Linked DNA regions of Homo sapiens. The protein of the gene in region 1 purifies or fractionates together with the protein of each later gene. This does not show direct contact. Each region holds a gene or a part of one and is shown in the gene's direction. Other genes may lie near its edges. The genes, in order: MAN2B1, AGL, MGARP, OAT, DTD1, DPCD and WARS2.

Region 1 (3,500 bases):
TGAGCCACTGTGTGGCCTAATTTCCCTACTTTAAGTTTGGCTGATGAACAACCTCAATTCCATCTGCAACCTTAATTCCCCTTTTGCCATGTAATCTAATGTGGTAATAGGTTCTGGGGATCAGGACATGGACACTTTTGGGCAGTTATCATTTTACCCAACACAGATGTGTTAGTGTTTTGCACTAAGTGGCCTGTGGCTGTGGCTGTGTGCACAGTCAGTCACTCTCATCAGCACAGAAACTTGTCTCCCCTCTCCCATCTCAGACACCCCTTCCCATCAATCTTGTCCTCACTACGGTGCAATCTCCATTCCCACCTTCCACTCGCTCCCAGCACTGCTATTTCACCAAAACAGCTCTTTTATGTCATTTATTTTTATTTATTTTTTCTTTTTAAAATTTTATTTATTTATTTATTTATTGAGACAAGAGTCTTGCTTTGTCACCCAGGCTGGAGTGCAGTGGCATGATCTTGCCTCATGGCAACCTCTGCCTCCTGGGTTCTAGTGATTCTCCTGCCTCAGCCTCCCAAGTAGCTGGGACTACAGGCATGTGCCACCAACCCTGGCTAATTTTTGTATTTTTAGTAGAGGCAGGGTTTCACTATGTTGGCCAGGCTGGTCTCAAAACTCCTGACCTCAGGTGATCCGTCCGCCTTGGCCTCCCAAAGTGTTGGGATTGTAATCTGAGGTGGGCGGATCACTTGAAGACAGGAGTTGGAGACCAGCCTGGCCAACATGGTGAAACCTTGTCTCTACTAAAAATACTACAAATTAGGTGGGCGTGATGGCACTCATCTGTAAGACCAGCTACTCGGCAGGCTGAGGCAGGAGAATCGCTGGAACCTGGGAGGCGGAGTTTGCAGCCAGCTGAGATCGTGCCACTGCACTCCAGCTTGGGCGACAGAGTCAGACTCAGTCTCAAAAAAAAAAAAAAAAAAAAAAGTTTATTGAGCACCTACTGTGTACATTGGGGGACACAGCTCGTGCAAAACAAACATCCTTTTCCTCACATAGGTCACTTTCTTGTTCCTCCACCTTGCTCAGGTGAAAGTGCACCTCCATTCATTATAAAAATTGTGTCTAGGCCGGGCACGGTGGCTCATGCCTGTAATCCCAGCACTTTGGGAGGCTGAGGCGGGCGGATCATGAGGTCAGGAGATCGAGACCATCCTGGCTAACACGGTGAAACTCCGTCTCTACTAAAAAATGCAAAAAATTAGCCGGGTGTGGTGGCGGGCACCTGTAGTCCCAGGTACTCATGAGGCTGAGGCTGGAGAATGGCGTGAACCCAAGAGGTGGAGCTTGCAGTGAGCTGAGATTGAGCCACTGCACTACAGCCTGGGCAACAAAGTAAGACTCCGTCCCAAAAAAAAAAAGTTGTGTTTTTTGGTAACAATCTGACAGTCCTGCAAAACGATTATTCCTGCCCTATAATGTCACACTTAGTTTTTCCACAAAAGTTTTTAATAATAAAGTTGGAATTATTGTAAAAGTTTAGTAAAATTTCAGGTTTATTCTTGCATCTCTGAAATCCTTTTAAAAAAGGCTAGTGGTCATGTTTGACTTCAGCCAAAATTCATTTTCACACCCAACCATTGGCTTGCACGCCAAATATGTATTTAGAGAAACTGAACCTATGGGATGCATGAATGTGCACACATGTGTGGAAGTGTGGGCCCCCAGGAAGGTGCGGACTCCCGAGGGCTCACTCCGTCGCCTCCCCCAGCAGCAGGCAAAAGGAAGCAGTGTCCATGTTCTCTACTCCACCCCCGCTTGTTACCTCTGGGAGCTGAACAAGGCCAACCTCACCTGGTATTTGGGGAAACTGGGGAGCTTGGGGGGGTTGGCATGCCCCGTGGGTCATGACCCTGCCCTCAATGCCCCTGCCGCTGTAGGTCAGTGAAACATGACGACTTCTTCCCTTACGCGGATGGCCCCCACCAGTTCTGGACCGGTTACTTTTCCAGTCGGCCGGCCCTCAAACGCTACGAGCGCCTCAGCTACAACTTCCTGCAGGTGGGTAGGAGCCGGGCTAGAGGGGGCATGCAGCCCCGAGGCCCGACAGGCTGGGCGCCCCAACATACCCCTCTGCCTCCAGGTGTGCAACCAGCTGGAGGCGCTGGTGGGCCTGGCGGCCAACGTGGGACCCTATGGCTCCGGAGACAGTGCACCCCTCAGTAAGTGTCGGGCCCAAGAGGGGAAGAGGTTTGCGGCTGAAGTTGGAAACCACCCCTAGGCCGCCCCCCTCGAGTTTCTTCTTTTTTTTTTTTTTTTTTTTTTTTTTTGAGACGGAGTCTCGATTTGTCTCCCAGGCTGGAGTGCAGTGGTGCGATCTCGGCTCACTGCAAGCTCCACCTCCCGTGTTCACGCCATTCTCCTGACTCAGCCTCCCGAGTAGCTGGGACTACAGGCGCCCACCACCACGCCCGGCTAATTTTTTGTATTTTTAGTAGAGACGGGGTTTCACCATGTTAGCCAGGATGGTCTCGATCTGACCTCGTGATCCGCCCGCCTCGGTCTCTCAAAGTGCTGGGATTACAGGCGTGAGCCACCGCCCCCAGCCGTCCTCGAGTTCCTTCTTAAAGCCTCTAAGAATCCTGCCCGCCAGCACCGGACCTTTCGCTTCCCCTTGGGGTCTCAGCTGAGTCCCACAGAACCTCACCGGACTCATTGTCTATGAGCAGATGAGGCGATGGCTGTGCTCCAGCATCACGACGCCGTCAGCGGCACCTCCCGCCAGCACGTGGCCAACGACTACGCGCGCCAGCTTGCGGCAGGCTGGGGGCCTTGCGAGGTGCGCGGGGCGAGACTTGGGAGACACGGGGGTGGAGACAGGAAGGGGCGGGGCCAGGGCCTGGGAAAGGGGACAGAGACAGGTGTGAGGCGTAGCCGAGAGCCCTGTGGCGGGGCTACAAGGGCTCGTGGGGGCGGGGCTTGTAGGAGGCGGGGAAAGATACAGGAACGGGGCGGGGCTTTGGAGGGGGGAAGGAGGCGGGGCGTGGGCAAGAGGAGGCGGAGACAGCTATGGGGTATAGTCAAGGGCAGCAGGGTGGGGCTAGAAGGGGTTTTGGGGCGACTCTTGAGGGAGGCGGGACAGAGACCGGAACGGGGCGGGGCCTGAGGAGAGGGGAGGAGTCAGGCCTGGCGTCCTGAACCCACCGGTCCCTTTGCGCTCTTCCGCAGGTTCTTCTGAGCAACGCGCTGGCGCGGCTCAGAGGCTTCAAAGATCACTTCACCTTTTGCCAACAGCTAAACATCAGCATCTGCCCGCTCAGCCAGACGGCGGCGCGCGTGAGCCGGGACGGGAGGGGTGGATCTAGGGCAGATGGGCTTTAGAGGGGGTAGTTGGAAAATGTTTTTGGAGGACTATACAGGAGTGAAATTACGTGGGCTGCGAAGCTGGGTCAGCAGAGAGAACAACGCATCTCGAGGGGGCTTGGCCTTAAGTGCCGTGACCACACTAGGACCAGCCAGGGGTGTTTCTGTGCAAAGTGGGT
Region 2 (3,500 bases), on another chromosome or scaffold:
ATAATATCTGATCATCTTTTATTTAACTTAAATTTCAATCATTTTGCAGTGATATGGTTTACTGTGGAATTTATGACAATGCATTAGACAATGACAACTACAATCTTGCTAAAGGTTTCAATTATCACCAAGGACCTGTAAGAATTTCATTTATCTTCTGAGTTTCAGTTTAAATTATTTTTCAAGTAATTTTTAGGTATTTATGGTTTTTTTTGTCTTTTAAATAATCTTTTTTAGGAGTGGCTGTGGCCTATTGGGTATTTTCTTCGTGCAAAATTATATTTTTCCAGATTGATGGGCCCGGAGACTACTGCAAAGACTATAGTTTTGGTTAAAAATGTTCTTTCCCGACATTATGTTCATCTTGAGAGGTAAGTCATCAGGAGCATGTAATTTCCATAACTAGTGTTTAGTCAGTTTATTAGCTATTAGGTAAATTACAGTTTCTTAGAATTGATTTCTGTATGCCCTAGGTATCCCAATGAAAAGTGAAGCCTTTATTCTTTAACATGACAAATTCTGTTATATAATTTTCACTTTCTCTTATTTTGGGTTGTTATTTATTTTAAGTTGAGGTCTTGATATTGTGCGATTTATACATGTGGAATAGTCTTTGATTTTTAAAATTTCCCTGATGTTTTTGGATGTGGTTAGCACAGGATAAATATAAAAACTGAAGGTACTCAGCCTGGGCCTTTTGAGTTAATTGATTTAAAGATATATCAAGAAATAGTTTTCAGAAATGCTTTCATTATAGTTAAAATATCAGAACTGGTCTTTTGCCTGTTAGTTCAAAAAACATTTTTCACTTCCTTGTCCTAATTATTAGCAAATAGACAGTGTCAGAGTTACGTATCTTTATAAGAGTATAAATTCAGAGTGTATCTTAATTCCTCAAATTTTAGATTATACCTAAGTATATCTATATTCTATTCCTCAGATAATGAATAAACAGCACAAATTTTATCTCCTTTCTTACAAGCACATAAGGGACTTCTGCGTGTTTCATATTAATAGAGCCACTCCTGGTCTGTTTTGTTTGGTTGTCACCATGGTACAGATTTTACCATCCTTTTAAGCTATTTATGTCTTTGTATTTAAAGTGGCTTTCTTGTACATAGTAGCATGTAATCGGGCCTTGCTCTCGTGTAGCACAACAGTTTCTGCTTTTGGAATATTTAGACCATTTACACTTAAGGTCTGAAATTGTGAAATTTAAATGTTTGTTGTCTGTTTATTCTGTCTGTTCTTTGTTAGCTTTTTCCTCTTTTTGTGCTTCTTTTGCATTGAATATTTATTATTTCATTTTAATCTCCTTTGTTGGCTAATTAGATGTAATTCTTGTTTATTTAAAATGGCTGCTTTAGGTTTATAGTATATGTCTTTATAGTTTACCTTCCAGTGATATACCACTTCAAGTAAGGTATAAAGATCCTTAAAATAGTATAGTTTTATTTTTCCCCTCCCGGCCTGTGTGCTATCATCATCATCCATTTTGCTTTTACCTGTTATTACCCCCCACACTACATGGTTACTACATTTGTTTAGGCAGTCAGTTATGTTTTAATGATCTTTAAATAATATATTAAAAAGTCTAATTACTCTTATAGTTGCCATTTTCAGTGCTCTTCATATGTTTGTGATGTTCTGTATCTCCATCTTGTATCATTTTCCTTCTACCCGAAGGACTTTCTCCATCATGTCTTGTAGTGTTTGCCTCCTCATGATGAATTCTTTCAATTCTTATAAGTGTAAAACATCTGTGTTTTGCCTTTATTTTAAAGATATTTTCACTATGTATAGAATTCAAAGTTAAGCTTTTTTCTCTTTCATACTTTAAGGTGGTTACATTGTTTTGATAAGAAATCTGCATCATTTTTATGTCTAACCTACCATCACATCCATGCTGGTGTTTTTCATTTCAACGTTGTAGTTTTCATTTCTCAAAGTTTTATCTGGGCTGTTTTTATATCTTCCATGTCTCTGCTTAATGTTTTGAACATGTGGAATATGATTACAGTGACTCTTTTAATATCCTTGTCTGCTAATTCATTTCTGGGTTGCTTTTGCTTGTGATTGTTCTCTTTATTTTGGGTCATATCACCCTGCTTCTTTGCTTGGTAGTTTTTGTTTTTTGATTTTTGGAGCGACAGGGGTCTTGCTATCTTGCCCAGGCTGGTCTCGAACTCCTAGGCTCAAGCAGTCCCCCAACCTCGGCCTCCTGAAGTGCTGAGATTACAGGCATGAGCCACCACACCCAGCCATTTGCCTGGTTATTTTTTATTAGATACCAGATGTGAATTTTACCTTGTTGGGTGCTAGATTTTTGGTGTTTCTGTAAATGTTTTTGAGCTTTGTTTTGGAATGCAGTGAAATTACTTGGAAACAGTTTGATCCTTTCTGGTCTTGATTTTAAGCTTGTTAGACCTGACCAGAATAGCATTTGGTCTAGGAATAATTATTCTCCATTAGTGAATCAAGACCCATCTGTGTTCCCTACCCTGTATTTCGAAAATTATGACGTTTTCAAATCTGGCTGGTGGGAACAAGCAAGTGTTCCTGACGCTGTATGAGTGCCACATACTGCTTCTTCTCATCCTTTTGGATGGTTCTTTCCTTGTTCTTTGGTAGTTTCCTCTTGTGAATTTGCTGGTTGGTACACTACAGATACTTGAGTGGGACCCTCTGCATATCTTCAGAGTTCTCTCTTTGTACAGCTCCTTCCTCTCTAGTACTCTATCCTGCAAATTGTAGCTGCTTTGTAGTGTTCCTGGATTCTCAGTTCAACTCAAGGAAGTCTGCCAGGCTCCACCTGTGTTCCCCCTCTCTGTGCCAAATCCTGGAAACTCTCAAGGCAGTAAGGTATGGTAATCATAGGGTTTGCTTCATTTGTTTCTCATCCTTCAAGGATCGCTATTTGTTGCCTAATGTCTAATGTCTTAATGTCCAGTTCTTCAGTTGTATCAGACAGGAGGGAAATTCTGTCCATACTACTTCCTGTTTGTCACATATGGAAGTCCTTCCTTGCTTTCTGGCCCAGCAAGGTTTTCAACACTCATCTTTCACTTTCACTACCCCAGCCTGGAATTGGGCAATTCTCTAAGGATCCCTTGTTCTTTATAGTGAAAAATGTTATTTAGAAGCCAGATCTGAGCACATGGTGTATTTATTATTACTATGACCCCCAGTAGATAGGGCTAGGGAATATATAATAATACATAAACATAAGTAAATACATACACACTTATCTTCATCTCAATGTATCCTGTCTATGTGTGTTGAAAACCTGAGTTTACACCAGTTCCAAGCTATTTCTCAGTGTTTAATTCTATTTTTCTCCCTTTCTATATTTGTAATTCCCTTTTCCAACAATGAATAACCTACTTCCCACATTGGGCCATCACCACCACATAGAGTCTGCTCACCCAGCTTGGGCCTGCTACCCCACAGTAAGCCACCTCTATGTGTGGAGCCCTCCTGGCACCACTTGGATTCTAACT
Region 3 (2,280 bases), on another chromosome or scaffold:
AGGGTTCAAGTGATTCTCCTGCCTCAGCCTCCCGAGTAGCTGGGATTACAGGCATGCGCCACCACGCCCGGCTAATTTTGTATTTTTAGTAGAGACCAGATTTCTCATGTTGGTCAGGCTGGTCTCAAACTCCCGACCTCAGGTGATCCGCTGGCCTCAGCCTCCCAAAGTGCTGGGATTACAGGTGTGGACCATTGCACCCGGCCCCGACATTACAGACATTCTATTTTCACAGCATAATTTTTACACTGTAAAATTGTTTGTAATTAAGTAGTACAATTTTTAAATAAGGTACTTGGTTTCTGATGGTTAAAAATTTAGAAGACACTATATATAAATAAATTTTAGAAATCTATCATCTTACCATTAAAAGTTAAACCACTACCAACATTTTCTTAAAAGCTAAATTAATACAAACAATAGTAACTGAATAATGAGATTTTCATTTTTTATATCATTTTCTAATATGAATACAGGCCAAAGAAGACTACTTAAATATAAAATGAAAGGAAGCCTGCACATTTTGTCTGTGATTAAAATAGCTTTCTTCCCAATACTGTTTCTTTCTTTCTTTTTTCTTTTTTTTTTTTTTTTTGAGATGGAGTCTTGCTCTGTCGCCCAGGGTGGAGTGCAATGGCATGATCTCGGCTCACTGCAACCTCCACCTCCTGGGTTCAAGCAATTCTCCCACCTCAGCCTTCTGAGTAGCTAGGGCTACAGGCGAGCACCACCACCATGCCTGGCTGTTTTTGTATTTTTAGTAGAGATGGGGTTTCACCATGTTGGCCAGACTGGTCTCGAACTCCTGACTTCAGGTGATCCACCCACCTCAGCCTCCCAAAGTGCTGGGATTACAGGCATGAGCCACCGCACCCGGCCTGATTCCAGTTTTTGACTATTACAAATAAAGGTACCATGAACATTTGTGTACAGGTTTTCATGTGAACCTAGATTTCCATTTCTCAAGGATAAATGCTAGAAAATATTTGTATATGCCTGTCAGGATATTCTGGTTGTAGCATAATTCATTTTTTTCTTCCTTGTTTTTAGTTATCTTTGGCTAAGATAGTGCATCTATTTCCTTCCCTTTTTAAAAAGTTTTATTTTAGGTTAAGGTGTACATGTGCAGGTTTGTTAATAGGTAAATTATGTGTCATGGGGGTTTGATGTATAGATTGATTTGTCACCCAGGTAATAAGTATGGTACCCAATAGGTAGTTTTTCTCTCCTCATCCCCTGTCTCACCTTTCTTCCTTTTTAAAGCATTCTATTTAATAACAAAGATTTCCAAAAGGGAAGTAAAAGAGTAAGTGGTGTGCACTGATTTCTCTTCTTTGCTACACTGGGATTATGGTTTAAACTTCTAATGGTGATTACAGGGAGACTTGAGTGTACCTTTGGATGTGGCGTGACAAATCTTAAAGCTCAAGAAATAAACCTAAGCATACATTTACTTTCAGGCTTACAAGACAGTCACATCAGACCAAGCCAAACACACAGAACATAAAACAAATTTGAAAGAAAAAACAAAAGCAGAGATACATCCATTTCAAGGTAAATGAATTTCTTAATTTTTTATTTTTATTTATTTTTTGAGGCACTAATTTCCATCCACTTAGTCTAGCAATGAACACTATTTGCTTTTGGCTTCTTTCCTAGCTTAATCCAGAATGACTCTAGGTATAAGTTCATTTAGAAAGGAAAAGTTCAACTGAAACCTGAAGAACACTGTTACACCTTTTGGATGAATGCATTTGACAAATGAATGTTTTACATTTATATTGCTGACCAGTGACTTTTGACTCCTTTGTGTGGTAATATTATTTTCCCCTGCTCAGGCATCCACCCATGCAGGCATGAGCTTTCATTTTTCTCATTATCTAAAAATAATAATATAACAAATTATCTTTCAGTTTTGGCTAAGACCACCTGTGTGCCTTTGTGCAAACAAGGTACATTTGACATAATAGAATCAGTTGTGTATAATGAGTCCTTCAGTTGATAAAATGGTGACCATGGGAACAGAAACTTTATATTTTCACTCTTTCCTTCCTTCCTACACTTCTTTTTCCCACCCTCCCTTCCTTCCCCCTTCCTTTCCCCCTTCCCTCCACGGGCTCTCCCTCTGTCAACCAGGCTGGAGTGCAGTGGTGCAATCATAGCCTACTGCAGCCTTGAACTCCTGGGCTCCAGCAATCTTCCCATCACAGCCTCTCAAGCAACTAGGACTACAAGCATGCACCGCTACACCCAGCAAATTTATTTTTTATGTTTTGCAGA
Region 4 (3,500 bases), on another chromosome or scaffold:
AAAAATAAATCATGGCACTGTTGATTCTGATATTTCAGAAACTGGCTAGTTTTAAGGGCAAAAGGGAACTGAGTGGCCATTTTGTGCTGGATTTGGCACAGTAACATTAACCCATTTCATCCTCAGTGACACTTCAACCTCCTTTTACAAATGGGGAGACTGAAGCTCAGAAAGATTGACAGAATCACCCAGAGTTACTCTTCAGAACCACAGACAGAATTTAAAATCCCGGTCTCCAAACTCGGGATTTTCCGCTTGATTCTCCCGGTTTTGAAACCTTTTTGGAAGAGGCTGTTATTGATGTTGGCTATTTTTAAGTCCATCTTAATTCTGCTCTAAGATTTCTCATACAGTGCCAAGCACAGTAACTTGAACACAGAAGGTTCTTTAATAGAAATGCGTTTACAGGATTTTGATACATCATGGCTCATCCAGTTTCTGACCTTTCCCAGTTGAATTAAATATCCAGAATTCATCTTAAAAACCTTAAGAATAGCTGACTCAGGGGTGTGTGCCTGTAGTCCCACCTCTTCCTGAGGCTGAGGCAGAAGGATCCCTTGAGCCCAGGTGTTCGAGGCCAACCTGGGCAACATAGCTGAGACTCCATCTGTAAGTGAAAAGAAACAAAAACCTTAAGAATGAGTATTAGTAATGTTTTGAATGATATTATTTTGTCCCCAGTTATTCTTTAATAAAACTGCCTAAACTTAACAGGTAAATGAATTTTTCATCCCATTTCTGTTGGAAATTAGCTGTGCAGATAACTTTTATATAAAATAAGAATGTTGAATTTAGATAATCTCTGATATTCCTTTTTTTTTTTTTTTTTTTTTTTTTTTTTTTTTTTTTAGCGCTTTGTAGCCCAGGCTGGAGTGCTGGTGGCACAGATCGTGGCTCACTGCAGCCCAGAACTCAGGGCTCAAGAGATCTTTCCACCTTAGTCTTAGTCTCCTAAGTACCAGATACTACAGGTACGCATCGCCACACCTGGCTAATATTCATATTTTTTATAGAGATGGGGTCTCCCTATGTTGCCCAGGTTGATCTTTAACTCCTGGGCTCAAGTGATCTGCCTTGGCCTCCCAAAGCGCTGGGATTATAGGCGTGAGCCACCTTGCCTGGCCCTAGAAAGTTGTTACGGTTTAGAGCACCACTAAGTATTGCCTGAGTGTTTTACTGCTAATTTGATAGGCAAAAATTAATGTTCTAATTTTTTAGTTGATCAAACAATTTATTCATACTGAGTAAAGCATAAAGAGTCCAAGAAAGAAATCATACATGAGTGTTTTAGACTTAGCAGTAGTATTTTGGGGAAGTTACATATAGTACAGTTAGACATTTTTGCTAGCAGCTACCTCCAGTTGGATGATTCTTACATCACTTTTGTTTTGATTGTTGGTACCCACCCCTTTGAGATAAAGTCTGATGAAAGTTATGGACCTTCTTCTTGGAAAAATATACGTCTGCATGTAATTCTGCATTTTATTTCAGGAGATTTTGGACTCTCTGCAGACTGTCCCTGGATCTTGGGTTAAAAATCTGTATTCTAGACTGAACCGTGGGAAGAAAAAATAGTCAGTGAGTCTTTGGCAAACCGGAGTACTGGATTTTGTTTAGCAATTGCAAATTCCTGAACATACTGGATTTACTGGGTAGTGCCAAGTTTAAAGGGAAGTAAGCCAAACTCCAAGTATTATGTTTTGCTAATTTGGCAGCTCGAATCAAGAGTGGCTGTGAGATTATACATGGTTTGACTTGTCATTGGTAGACTTCTGTTGAAACATGAATTAACTAGTCTTTTAGAAAGTAAGTATAGATGGAATAAGTATGCCTAGTTTTTGGCAACTTTCTCCTAATCATGAATTTATCTTTAAGCTTTTTTTTTTTTTTTCCTTCCAGAGGTGATTCCTATGCACATGCTCTAATTTCCTTTTAATTATTAGTTTCTTTCATAGCTTAGTTTTTACTTCATGGCTTATCAGGATGCTTAATGGTAAATTGGGTACAAAGAGGTGTGTGAAGCCTTGTGGAGGGGCTAGTTTTAGGGCTGGGGGTGACTGGGGAGAGTAGCTATGGCTCTGACTTATGTGATGGGGCGGCAGGGTAAACACCAGCCTGCTCAGTGATGTTTAGACTTTAACACTCATACAAGTAACGGATTGTAGTTTGTAGTTTGACTCTCTCTAGTTTCTCAGTTACCTTTTGCTAACAATAGCTTTTTCGTTTGTTTGTTTGTTTTTTGAGACGGAGTTTCACTCTTGTTGCTCAGGCTGGAGTGCAATGCGCAGTCTTGGCTCACTGCAGCCTCGTCCTCCCAAGTTCAAGCGATTCTCCTGCCTTAGCCTCCTGAGTCGCTGGGATTACAGGCATGCACCACCACGCCTGGCTAATTTTGTATTTTCAGTAGAGACGGGGTTTCTCCATGTTGGTCAGGCTGGTCTCGAACTCCCGATTCAGGTGATCGCCTGCCTCTGCCACCCAAAGTGCTGGGATTATAGGCATGAGTCACCGCACCTGGTCAACAATATCTTTTATGCTACAATTTTTCAGGATAAGTTTTGTAGAAACAACCATCCTAGCAGAATAGATTGTTTTGTTTGGGAATCTCATATATGTGTGTGTGTGTGTGTGTGTGTGTGTGTGTGTGTGTGTGTGTATGTATTTATGTATGTATGTATATGTTGGTCTAATTCAACTTGCTGTGAACACTTTAAAGCTATTATAAGTTAACATTTTTTTCCTAGTCTTTTTGCCTTTCACCTTTGTTTATGATAAATTTGACCTACAGAAGTTTTAGATATTTGTGGCTAAATAAAAGATTTTAGGCTGGGCACAGTGGCTCACACCTTTAATTCGAAAACTTTGGGAGGCCGTGGTGGGCGGACTGCTTGAGCCCAGAGGGATGGACAGTTCCTCTGTCTCCTGCCCCATGCCTAGTCTCTGGCAGTCTTCTCTGATTTGGTCTCCCTGCCTCTGGTCTCTGCCCTACAGTTGTAGCTGTCTCATAGCATTGTGCCTGATGGTATCGGACTGTGGTAGGTGCTTAACAAATACTTAGTGTTTAGCAGGTACTCAGTCAACACACAGTGCATTAGCTCTGGAAAGAGTCTTACTCTTATTGATTGGTTGGTTGATTGATTGCCTGATTGACAGGGTATCACTCTGTTGCCCAGGCTGGCCTCAAACTCTTGGGCTCAAGTGATCCTCCCGCCTCAGCCTCCTGAGCAGCTGGGGGCTACAGGCACAAACCACCACACCTGACTCAAGATTCTCACTCTTTTTTTTTCTTTTATAGAGACTATGTTGCCTAGGCTGGTCTTTAACTCCTCGGCTCAAGCGATCCTCCCATCTTGGCCTCCCAAGGTGCTGGAATTACAGATGTGAGCTATCACGCCTGGCCATTTTTTTTTTCTTGAGACTGGGCCTTTCTTTGTCTCCCAGGTTGGAGTACAGTGGCACAATCTCAGCTCACTGCAGCCTCAACTTCCGGGCTCAAGCAA
Region 5 (3,500 bases), on another chromosome or scaffold:
CAACCCCTGCCTTTTTTTGTTTTTTCATTTGCTTGGTAGATCTTCCTCCATCCTTTTATTTTGAGCATATGTGTGTCTCTGCACGTGAGATGGGTTTCCTGAATACAGCACACTGATGGGTCTTGACTCTTTATCCGATTTGCCAGTCTGTGTCTTTGAATTGGAGCATTTAGCCCATTCACATTTAACGTTAATATTGTTATGTGTGAATTTGATCCTGTCATTATGATGTTAGCTGGTTATTTTGCTCGTTAGTTGATGCAGTTTCTTCCTAGCCTCGATGGTCTTTACAATTTGGCATGTTTTTGCAGTGGCTGGTACCTTTGTTCCTTTCCATGTTTAGTGCTTCCTTCAGGAGCTCTTTTAGGGCAGGCCTGGTGGTGACCAATCTCTCAGCATTTGCTTGTCTGTAAAGTATTTTATTTCTCCTTCACTTAGGAAGCTTAGTTTGGCTGGATATGAAATTCTGAGTTGAAAATTCTTTTCTTTAAGAATGTTGAATATTGGCCCCCACTCTCTTCTAGCTTGTAGAGTTTCTGCCGAGAGATCCGCTGTTAGTCTGATGGGCTTCCCTTTGTGGGTAACCCAACCTTTCTCTCTGGCTGCCCTTAACATTTTTTCCTTCATTTCAACTTTGGTGAATCTGACAATTATGCGTCTTGGAGTTGCTCTTCTCGAGCAGTATCTTTGTGGCGTTCTCTGTATTTCCTGAATGTGAATGTTGGCCTGCCTTGCTAGATTGGGGAAGTTCTCCTGGATAATATCCTGCAGCATGTTTTCCAACTTGGTTCCATTCTCCCCGTCACTTTCAGGTACACCAATCAGATGTAGATTTGGTCTTTTCACATAGTCCCATATTTCTTGGAGGTTTTGTTCGTTTCTTTTTATTCTTTTTTCTCTAAACTTCTCTTCTCGCTTCATTTCATTCATTTGATCTTCCATCACTGATACCCTTTCTTCCAGTTGATCGAATTGGCTATTGAGGCTTATGCGTTCGTCACATAGTTCTCGTGTCGTGGTTTTCAGCTCCATCAGGTCCTTTAAGGACTTCTCTGCATTGGTTATTCTAGTTAGCCATTCGTCTAATCTTTTTTCAAGGTTTTTATCTTCTTTGCCATGGGTTCGAACTTCCTCCTTTAGCTCGGAGTGGTTTGATCATCTGAAGCCTTCTTCTCTCAACTCGTCAAAGTCATTCTCTGTCCAGCTTTGTTCCATTGCTGGTGAGGAGCTGCATTCTTTTGGAGGAGGAGAGGTGCTCTGATTTTTAGAATTTTAAGTTTTTCTACTCTGTGTTTTCCTCATCTTTATGGTTTTATCTACCTTTGGTCTTTGATGATGGTGACGTACAGATAGGGTTTTGGTGTGGATGTCCTTTCTGTTTGTTTGTTTTCCTTCTAATAGTCAGGACCCTCAGCTGCAGGTCTGTTGGAGTTTGCTGGAGGTCCACTCCAGACCCTGTTTGCCTGGCTATCAGCAGTGGAGGCTGCAGAACAGTGGATATTGGTGAACAGCAAATGTTGCTGCCTGATCGTTCCTCTGGAAGTTTTGTCTCAGAGGAGTACCCGGCCGTGTGAGGTGTTAGTCTGCCCCTACAGTGCGGTGCCTCCCAGTTAGGCTACTCAGGGGTCAGGGACCCACTTGAGGAGGCAGTCTGTCTGTTCTCAGATCTCAAGCTGCATGCTGGGAGAACCACTACTCTCTTCAAAGCTGTCAGACAGGGACATTTAAGTCTGCAGAGGTTTCTGCTGCCTTTTGTTTGTCTGTGCCCTGTCCCCAGAGGTGGAGTCTACAGAGGCAGGCAGGCCTCCTTGAGCTGCGGTGGGCTCCACCCAGTTCGAGCTTCCCGGCCGCTTTGTTTGCCTACTCAAGCCTCGGCAATGGTGGGCGCCCCTCCCCCAGCCTTGCTGCCACCTTGCAATTTGATCTCAGACTGCTGTGCTAGCAATGAGCGAGGCTCTGTGGGCGTAGGACCCTCAGAGCCATGCGCGGGATATAATCTCCTGGTGTGCCGTTTGCTAAGACCATTGCAAAAGCGCATTATTAGGGTGGGAGTGACCCGATTTTCCAGGTGCTGTCTATCACCCCTTTCCTTGGCTAGGAAAGGGAATTCCCTGGCCCCTTGCGCTTCCCGGGCGAGGCGATGCCTCGCCCTGCTCGGTGTGCTGCAGCTACTGTCCTGCATCCACTGTCCAGCAATCCCCAGTGAGATGAACCCTGTACCTGAGTTGGAAATGCAGAAATCATTCGTCTTCTGCGTGGCTCACACTGGGAGGTGTAGACTGGAGCTGTTCCTATTTGGCCATCTTGGCTCCACCTCTGATAATTATTATTAACATAATGCTTTGGAATACTTTTTCTAAACAGGTAATTCTACATCTGTTTCTCTAACTTTACAAAGTTGGAGACATACTGTATATATATAGTGTCACCTGTTTTTTATCTTTTAACAGAATATCTTTAACATTTCTCTAGGTCATTCTTTTACTGTGAGCTTTATAATTTCCATCTGCACATCAAATATTTGAAGACTAAATTATCCCAATGCATTAAAAATGTAGAATATTGTAGAATATTTAATTGAAGTAAATGTAAAAGAAAAATACGTTCAACCAGGATTCCAAAGCTCATCTTAAGTTCAAAAACAAAGATTTTAATCTGTGCCAAGAAGATGGAGTTTCTCAAAGGTCAATGTGGGGAACAATTACAGTATTTCAGTTATTGGTATTGAAGGTAGGGAAACAAGTATGAATAGTCCCCAGGTCCGTAACTTGGGTTAACATCATCCACACAATGTAAGAACAAATGGGTTGTTTCTAATAGCTAAAAACTGAAAGTAATATGGTCCCCAGGAATGATGTTGTCTGTTCTCCACCCACTGGTTGTCTTTTAGAAAACTCTTAGGAAGGTGTGCAGGACTCTTACAGGTGGGTTTGGGTGTACGAGGGTAGCCCTTGGGGATATGGTGGCAGACAGAGCTGCAGAGCATGGGCTAGCTGTGGTTCCAGCTTGCCTTTCTCATGTGTGCACAGGGACTTCGCTATCCAGCTGGGCAGGGGAATGAGGGCTGTTAGTCTATGGAAGCATCTGCTTGTGATACAACCCTTTCTTAAGAAGGTGGCCTGCACTGAGTGTATCAGGAAGCACATCCATGGAGGTGGCACTGCCATGGCATATTGAGTCGTATTGAAATCTTTTGCTTTTACTGAAGTCCATCCAATTAGAATCTAGATCTGAGGGAATAGAAACTCTTCTGTTAGGCTTTAGCTTTAGTTTAACTTTTGGATGACAAATGCATGCATCATAGATCTCGGCAATACTAGCTGGTTTTTGTTATAGCCTCGGAATTACAAAAGGAAACCCTGAGACACTTGGACTTCTGTACCAAACAGCCAGGCATCCTTTGAGTAGTATTTAAAATGTCGCAAGACTAAGCATTTAGTTTATTCCCTCCCTGTCCCTGCATTTCCTTAAGCTCCCATCCCTCTACCTCCCTCATTGTT
Region 6 (2,421 bases), on another chromosome or scaffold:
CTGAGGTGTTTCCCTTCACAGCCCATACAACCTCTGCAGCAGAAAGTGATGCCTTGCCCAAGTGACAGGTCTAGCAGCCCCTGGCCAGAGCCTAAGCCACATTTCCACCAAGGAAAATGCCAAATTGGTGTACTGTTAGAGATGAGGAGGCCATTCATTGTGCTTTGGTGTAGTAAGGATCAGACCAAGGACAAGGAATCTTACTCTAATCTTGACTCCCATCCCTACCGACAACTGGCCGTGAAACAAGGCAAGATATTTCATCTCTCTGAGCCCGAGTTCCCTTTTAGGTAAGGGGGGTCAAATTTCCTGCAAAGTCTAGTTATACACATTACAGACTGGGTGTTGCCATCTGTTCTATTTTTTTTTTTAATTAAAAGGCATCATTAATCGCTGAACCGGCACCTGCAGATGATAAGGACCATGTGTGATATGTAAAAATGGAGGAGTAGGGACTTGGGGCCAGCCAAGTAGTCCAGAGGTCCAGCTTCCGTGATGAGTAACATGGTTCGTCCTCTCAAAGAGATTTCTCCTAGTAGATATACTTTTCCCTCTGGCCTACAAGGCCAGGCTAACAAGGCCTTGAAAGGCCCCAAAAGAGGAAGAGGTAGTTGAGGCCTTCAGTGGACCTCCCATGTAAATGGTAACAGTAGGGCCCCAGCTTTGGGAGACAGATCTGAATGTCCTTACTCTGTCCTTTGTTAGAACACGTCCCATTTTTCTGGTGTCTCCATGAGGCTTTGGGGGTAGAGGAGTCCCAAGCTGCTTGAGCTATTTGTGTGTTCCAGGCTTCTTCTGCCTGTCTTTGGGAGACCCAGCTCTGAGATGTGAGTCACTACAACCCCTGGTCTAATCACAGAATTATAACTAGGTTCTGCTCTTCTGCCACTGGACTGGACATAAGGCTTGCATTCTATGCTTTCCAGGGCCACTGAGCTCTGAAATACTGGTGTTCTAACTGGTTTCCCTTCTCCCTCTCTGCGTGTGTGGAAGGTGTGGAAGAACTAGGTAGAAGCTAGGCAGCAGAGGGCCTGACGCCTGGCTGTTGGGTCACCTTGCCGAGTGCCCCAATGGCCTCTCGGTGTCCCCACAGGTACTACAAGAAGTTCTCCATTCCTGATCTAGATAGACACCAGCTACCTCTGGATGACGCCTTGCTGAGCTTTGCCCACGCCAACTGCACCCTGATCATCTCTGTAAGATTCACCCAGACTTCTTGGACACTGCATCAGGGAGAGTCTTCCTCTTTCCCTGCCCACTTCCCATCCCATAAGAGTCCTCAGTTCTAGCCCCAAGCCCTAGGGTATGCTTGTGGGAGAATAGGCATCTCTAATTCAGCATGGGGGAGAGCAGGGAGGGGGCTCAGGAAGGAGCCTGACCATATAATTCACAGCTAGAAGAGGGTAGAGGGTGAAAGGGAAGCGGTGGAAATTGCTGAACTTGGGTTCTTCTGGTCCAAGGTCTGCTCCTACTCAGGCACATGACCTTGAGCAAATCATTCAATCCTACAGGCCTCAATTTTCTCGTGCAAATAAGGGGATCAGAAGGAGAAGGGGCCCCAAGTGTGTGTGGAAGGAGATGGGACAGTGACTGAATTATTTTCTTATTCCTGGCTGCATCCACAGTACCAGAAGCCAAAGGAGGTTGTGGTGGCCGAGTCTGAGCTACAGAAGGAACTAAAGAAGGTGAAGACAGCCCACAGCAACGATGGGGACTGCAAGACCCAGTAGTTGGCCCCTGAGCCTTATACCTCCACCACAGGGGGTGCCGTGAGACTTCAAGGCTTGGCCCTTCTTGACCACGGCAGCCTCCTGTCTTCTAGGAGCTATCAAGGGTCTCTAAGAACTGGGCATGGGGCACTCCTAGCCAGTGAGTCATGGTCATATTTCCTGAGTAAAGTCATTCTGAGTTACTTACTGCACAGGGACTGCCCTCTTGTTCCCCTCTGTATGCTGCCTGGCCCCAGACCCCACTGGCCTCCCTCGGGAGGGTGTGATGACATTCCTTTCTCTATCCCGGAGACCTACAACATAAAGCTTTCCACAAAAAGGGAGAATAGGGTGGGAGCACATGGCCCTAGCAGGGCAGGGCTGGCCTTTCCCTGCAACCTGTTTACACAAACTCAGAGGAAGACCAGGCTGGAGGGACCCTGTGCTACCGTAGCTTGCAGAAGTGGCTCAGAGGAAACTCCTGAAGATGTGTGGGCAAGGGAAAAGTTTTAAAAATGCAGAAACCGGCCAGGCGCAGTGGCTCACGTCTTAATCCCAGCACTTTGGGAGGACGAGACGGGCGGCTCACCTGAGGTCAATAGTTCAAGACCAGCCTGGCCAACATGGTGAAACCCTGTCTCTACTAAAAACACAAAAATTAGCCGGCCATGGTGGCGCATGCCTGTAATTCCAGCTACTCGGGAGGCTGAGG
Region 7 (4,172 bases), on another chromosome or scaffold:
ATTTTGGAAGTACTACAAGCACCTCAAATTTAACAGCCAAAACCAAACTGATCAGCTTTGTTGAAGACTATAACTTGATTTCCTAGTTTTTTTTTTGCCTTCATCCCTTTCCTGCTCACTTCTAAATTACACCAATTATACTTGAACTTCACCAGTACTTTGTATACCTACAAGATTATCCTATATGGTTTTAATTTACTGTTTTGTCTTACCCTGGTAGATTTCAGCTCCTTTATAGGCATCTCTTATCTCCTACCTCTCCTTGGTAATTTTCAGTAGCTGGATGAATTATAAACAAAACACATAAAGGAATTGTCATGAATTTCTTCCAGTTATATTTTTACTGAAACACTCGTTATCTGTCTGGGAGATTTTTAGGTGAATTAACAGAAGCAGAAAAACTGTATTAAACTTTCTCATAACCCCAAACAAAACAATTTCTTCCATCAGGTATAACCTTCCTGCAGCCTTCCCTAGACTAGGTTGAAACACCACAGTCATAACCACTCCTCCTTAAAACTTGCGGTGCTTGCTTCTTTAACACCTATTAAGTGTACATCATTTATTTATCCGCTACTCTATTAGACTGTACACAACTTGAAGACAAGATATGTCTTTCTCTGTACCTTCAGTGCCCAGCACATTACGGTAGGGTTCAACAAAGTTTACAGGACGAATGAAATAAGGCCACATAAGTCCAGTGCGGTGGCACATGCCTGTAATCCCAGCACTTTAGGAGGCCGAGGCAGATGGCTTGGCTTGAGCTCAGGAGTTTGAGAGAGCCTGGGCAACATGGTGAAACCCTGTCTCCACCAAAATACAAAAATTAGCCGGGCGTGGTGGCGCACCCTTGTGGTCCCAGCTACTCAGGAGGCTGAGGCAGGAGAATAGCTTGAGTCTGGGAGGTGGAGGTTGCAGTGAGCCGAGATCGCGCCATTGCACTCCAGCCTGGGCGAGAGTGAGACCTTGTCTCAAAGAAAAAAAAGGGAAATGAGGCCACACATGTCTAAAAAGACCACTTATATTACCCTCTAAGAGAACTGGGAGTTTCTAAACAAACTTTTTAAAGGTTGCCTTCACATAGCTAAGATCAGAAATGCAGCCTACTTGACTTTCTTCCAGTCTAAAGCGTTGCTACTAATAACCCCCAAGGAAATTCTCCTTCCAGGAAGGCTGAGCAGACAAGGGATCCAGGGAAAAACACTAAAGCCCCACCCCGCTCCTGTCCCCACCTGCTCGGCAAGAACTGCAGTCCGCCCGATAGCGGCTGCGCTGCGCAGCCTGGAGGCCCAAGCCGCGCCCAGCAAGCAGGAGTCGCGAGACTGGGATTGGCTCTCTGAACAGACGTCATTCCAAACAAGACGGCTCCGCCCTTCTCAAGATGGCGCTGCACTCAATGCGGAAAGCGCGTGAGCGCTGGAGCTTCATCCGGGCACTTCATAAGGGATCCGCAGCTGCTCCCGCTCTCCAGGTAACCAAAGACGGCCCTTCCCTCCGCGGCTTCCCATCCCGCGAGGTTCTTCTCATCCCACTGCCCTCTATTTATTTCTCTCCTCCCGCTTCTTAGGGAAAGTACATGCCTTCCCTCGCCTAAGGTCTACTCGTCTATGACTGTCGGCCTGCTCAGAGCGTAGTGACGTTGCAAGGATACGTGATGACGTAAAGGTTTCTTGGTGGAAAAAGCGCGCCGCTTTCTGACCTCTTGCCGCCACCTCCAGTTCTGGGAGCGGAGCGCCGCCGCTGTTGCCGGGCAACGCGGTGAGCCTACCCCGCGTGTGATGTTTTCAGAGACGGGTTGTTTTAGAGACTGCTCTTCTTGTGGTCTTATTACTGTTTTTACCCTCCTTACCCTAACAACACGCTAAGGGGCTATCGGAGAGAGTAGAGAAGTTTTGTTAGGCATTGGGCAGCTTGGGTCGGGGCAGCAGGTTGGCAGTGTGGTACTTGAGCAAGTGTCAGTGCATCTTCCATTCTGGTTGCTCCTGGTGGCTCCACAGCACTGCTCTATCTAGCAGGCTGTGAAAGAGTGACCGCAAGCTGCTACAGAGTTTGTCCTGTCCTGCGCTTGACAACACTGCTGTTACCATTAATCTCGTCGTACGGAGACCATGTCGCGGCCTGGTCTTATTGGGAATTGTCTTAAATATTTGGAATTTTACCCTCATAGCAAAAAAGTCAGGGGGAGGGGATACCCTTTCAGTTATTCAGGATTTTACCAAACGTCTTCCAAGTACAGTCTCAGTGGCAAGCACTTTGACATACTTTATCTACGGGAGATATATTCTGGGAACTAGAGAGAAAGGAGAGAATGTGATTTTATTAGGTAATTTCCCGGCATCATTTGCATATGTATTGCCATAATGAGTAGGTGTGAGGATGTCGCACCTATTGTAACTGTTGTGTTGAAAACAGCGCTAGACAGGAAGGTAGCCTAGAGGTCAAGGGTTTGGTCTGCCACTTGACAGCTGTGTGACAAGTCACAATCTCTCTGGGACTTTTCTTCTTTTTTTGCTCATATTGAGTGGAGGAAGAGAGCTGGACTGATTGACACGTTAATGTTCTTTCAACCTCTGGAAAATCTATAGTTCCATGATTATGAAGCCAAAACAAAGCCAATGAGAGTAATTATGAAAACCAAAATTTAAGTTCAACTTATTTTTCTAGTCATGTCATAAATTTTTTGAACTTCCGTTTTTTATTAATGTGAGCCTCACAAAATTCTTATAAGCTAATATATTAATATATACCGGAAAGCTGCTTGTCAGCAAACAACTATTCAAATGTCACCTTAAATTTCAGCAGCAATGTTAGGTAAGACAATTCAAAATTAGATAAATTTATCAAAAATTCCTCTCCTTGAAATTTGAGGGTTTGATTCTGCAGAACTAGAATGAGATGATTATTTATAATTTATAGCACATTAACACCTATGCTATCAAAGTAGCTAAGCCGTAGACCCAAACTTCCCCTTATTCCAAACTAAAGAATTGAAGATGTCTTGAGAATAGAGAATCAAAGAGAGAGAGAAAAAAAAGACAAACTGCAGCCTGCTAATGACTGCCCAGGGAAGTTTAAGACACTAAGTCATTATAAATGCTAAAGAAAAAATTTCTTAAACCTCTACTATTGTTTCAGTGGCATTTATGAATAGGGCTATTAAAGTTAATTATTAATCTAGATTGTTTCAAGATGTAGAATTTCCAGTACCGATGAATGTTTCTAAACCTTTAATTTAGCTTTGAGTAGAATAAGTATTAAATGTGAGAGTATTTTTTTAAAGTATAAATCTACATATAATTTCAGTCATTGAAAATGATGGTTTGAAAGATTAATGTGGTTTTTTGAAAGACTGAGAAAAGATACAAAATTGTGTTCATAGTGTTATTACGATGTTATGTTTATATATAAGTGTTTATATAAACGTATACATAGAAAAAAAGCCTGGAAGGGAACAAACATTTTTAACTTTTTTATTTTGCTTTGGCCTTCCTAAATAGTGGGTTAAAAGTTATTTGTTTCCTTTTATAGCATTACATATTTTTCACATGTCTAAATTGAAGACACACACTTTTTAATAACCAGAAAAACGTTTTGAAATCATAAATCTTTATACAGATCTTTAGTCATTAATATCATTTGTGATATTTTAGGATTCTGAGGAAGATACTTGTCCCACAATGCTGTTATTAAAATGGCCTTAGAAAAGGACTACTAAAAATTTATGGCCACTTTTCCTGTATGTATCTTCTTTTTCTCTTGAAAAGCTTCCTTTGAAGTCAAAGGGATTTTGTGAACAGATGCAGAAATATGTGAAAGAGGCATTGGATTCTTAAACCAGATGCATTAGACATTTTTATGATATCTCATAACCTTTGTAGAAAAAAATTATTTTGCAAGAGTATAGTATAATGGGAAAAAATGTATATTTATCATATGAATGGTTCCATCAAAAACCAAGAAATAGCCAAGTTAGTTTTTATTAGCCTTGGCTGTGCACTTACTCCCTTAGGTGTAAAGCAAAAGTGAATGAGCCATAACAGTGCTATGTTAGAAACTCTAACTAATAAAGTGTTGTGATTCCTAAGTTGTTTTAATGGTTTTTAGTGTTTTCTTTTTTTAAAACAAAATCTTGGGTAAAAATGTTGGCATAGGGCATCTTTGCTTATCTCAGA

What was found.
Region 2: the proteins of MAN2B1 (region 1) and AGL fractionate together in Homo sapiens (co-fractionation; one large-scale study listed by BioGRID). This does not show direct contact.
Region 3: the proteins of MAN2B1 (region 1) and MGARP fractionate together in Homo sapiens (co-fractionation; one large-scale study listed by BioGRID). This does not show direct contact.
Region 4: the proteins of MAN2B1 (region 1) and OAT fractionate together in Homo sapiens (co-fractionation; one large-scale study listed by BioGRID). This does not show direct contact.
Region 5: the proteins of MAN2B1 (region 1) and DTD1 fractionate together in Homo sapiens (co-fractionation; one large-scale study listed by BioGRID). This does not show direct contact.
Region 6: the proteins of MAN2B1 (region 1) and DPCD fractionate together in Homo sapiens (co-fractionation; one large-scale study listed by BioGRID). This does not show direct contact.
Region 7: the proteins of MAN2B1 (region 1) and WARS2 fractionate together in Homo sapiens (co-fractionation; one large-scale study listed by BioGRID). This does not show direct contact.

Annotation. Positions count from the first base shown.
Region 1 is NC_000019.10:12,656,743-12,660,242, reverse strand, and holds part of MAN2B1 (lysosomal alpha-mannosidase isoform 1 precursor), read left to right. Parts: intron 1-1,729; coding exon of another isoform or gene 1,730-1,732; coding exon 1,733-1,815; intron 1,816-1,898; coding exon 1,899-2,019; intron 2,020-2,101; coding exon 2,102-2,180; intron 2,181-2,687; coding exon 2,688-2,797; intron 2,798-3,186; coding exon 3,187-3,294; intron 3,295-3,500. UniProt on the Homo sapiens protein: Necessary for the catabolism of N-linked carbohydrates released during glycoprotein turnover. Cleaves all known types of alpha-mannosidic linkages.
Region 2 is NC_000001.11:99,916,361-99,919,860, forward strand, and holds part of AGL (glycogen debranching enzyme), read left to right. Parts: intron 1-49; coding exon 50-137; intron 138-237; coding exon 238-371; intron 372-3,500. UniProt on the Homo sapiens protein: Multifunctional enzyme acting as 1,4-alpha-D-glucan:1,4-alpha-D-glucan 4-alpha-D-glycosyltransferase and amylo-1,6-glucosidase in glycogen degradation.
Region 3 is NC_000004.12:139,267,946-139,270,225, reverse strand, and holds part of MGARP (protein MGARP), read left to right. Parts: intron 1-1,460; coding exon 1,461-1,554; intron 1,555-2,280. UniProt on the Homo sapiens protein: Plays a role in the trafficking of mitochondria along microtubules. Regulates the kinesin-mediated axonal transport of mitochondria to nerve terminals along microtubules during hypoxia.
Region 4 is NC_000010.11:124,412,424-124,415,923, reverse strand, and holds part of OAT (ornithine aminotransferase, mitochondrial isoform 1 precursor), read left to right. Parts: intron 1-851; exon of another isoform or gene 852-971; intron 972-1,491; exon of another isoform or gene 1,492-1,806; intron 1,807-3,500. UniProt on the Homo sapiens protein: Catalyzes the reversible interconversion of L-ornithine and 2-oxoglutarate to L-glutamate semialdehyde and L-glutamate.
Region 5 is NC_000020.11:18,759,054-18,762,553, forward strand, and holds part of DTD1 (D-aminoacyl-tRNA deacylase 1), read left to right. Parts: intron 1-3,500. UniProt on the Homo sapiens protein: Possible ATPase involved in DNA replication, may facilitate loading of CDC45 onto pre-replication complexes. An aminoacyl-tRNA editing enzyme that deacylates mischarged D-aminoacyl-tRNAs.
Region 6 is NC_000010.11:101,607,742-101,610,162, forward strand, and holds the end of DPCD (protein DPCD), read left to right. Parts: intron 1-1,093; coding exon 1,094-1,196; intron 1,197-1,625; coding exon 1,626-1,730; 3' UTR 1,731-1,921; downstream 1,922-2,421. UniProt on the Homo sapiens protein: May play a role in the formation or function of ciliated cells.
Region 7 is NC_000001.11:119,137,854-119,142,025, reverse strand, and holds the start of WARS2 (tryptophan--tRNA ligase, mitochondrial isoform 1 precursor), read left to right. Parts: upstream 1-1,372; 5' UTR 1,373-1,381; coding exon 1,382-1,471; exon of another isoform or gene 1,472-1,758; intron 1,759-4,172. UniProt on the Homo sapiens protein: Catalyzes the attachment of tryptophan to tRNA(Trp) in a two-step reaction: tryptophan is first activated by ATP to form Trp-AMP and then transferred to the acceptor end of tRNA(Trp).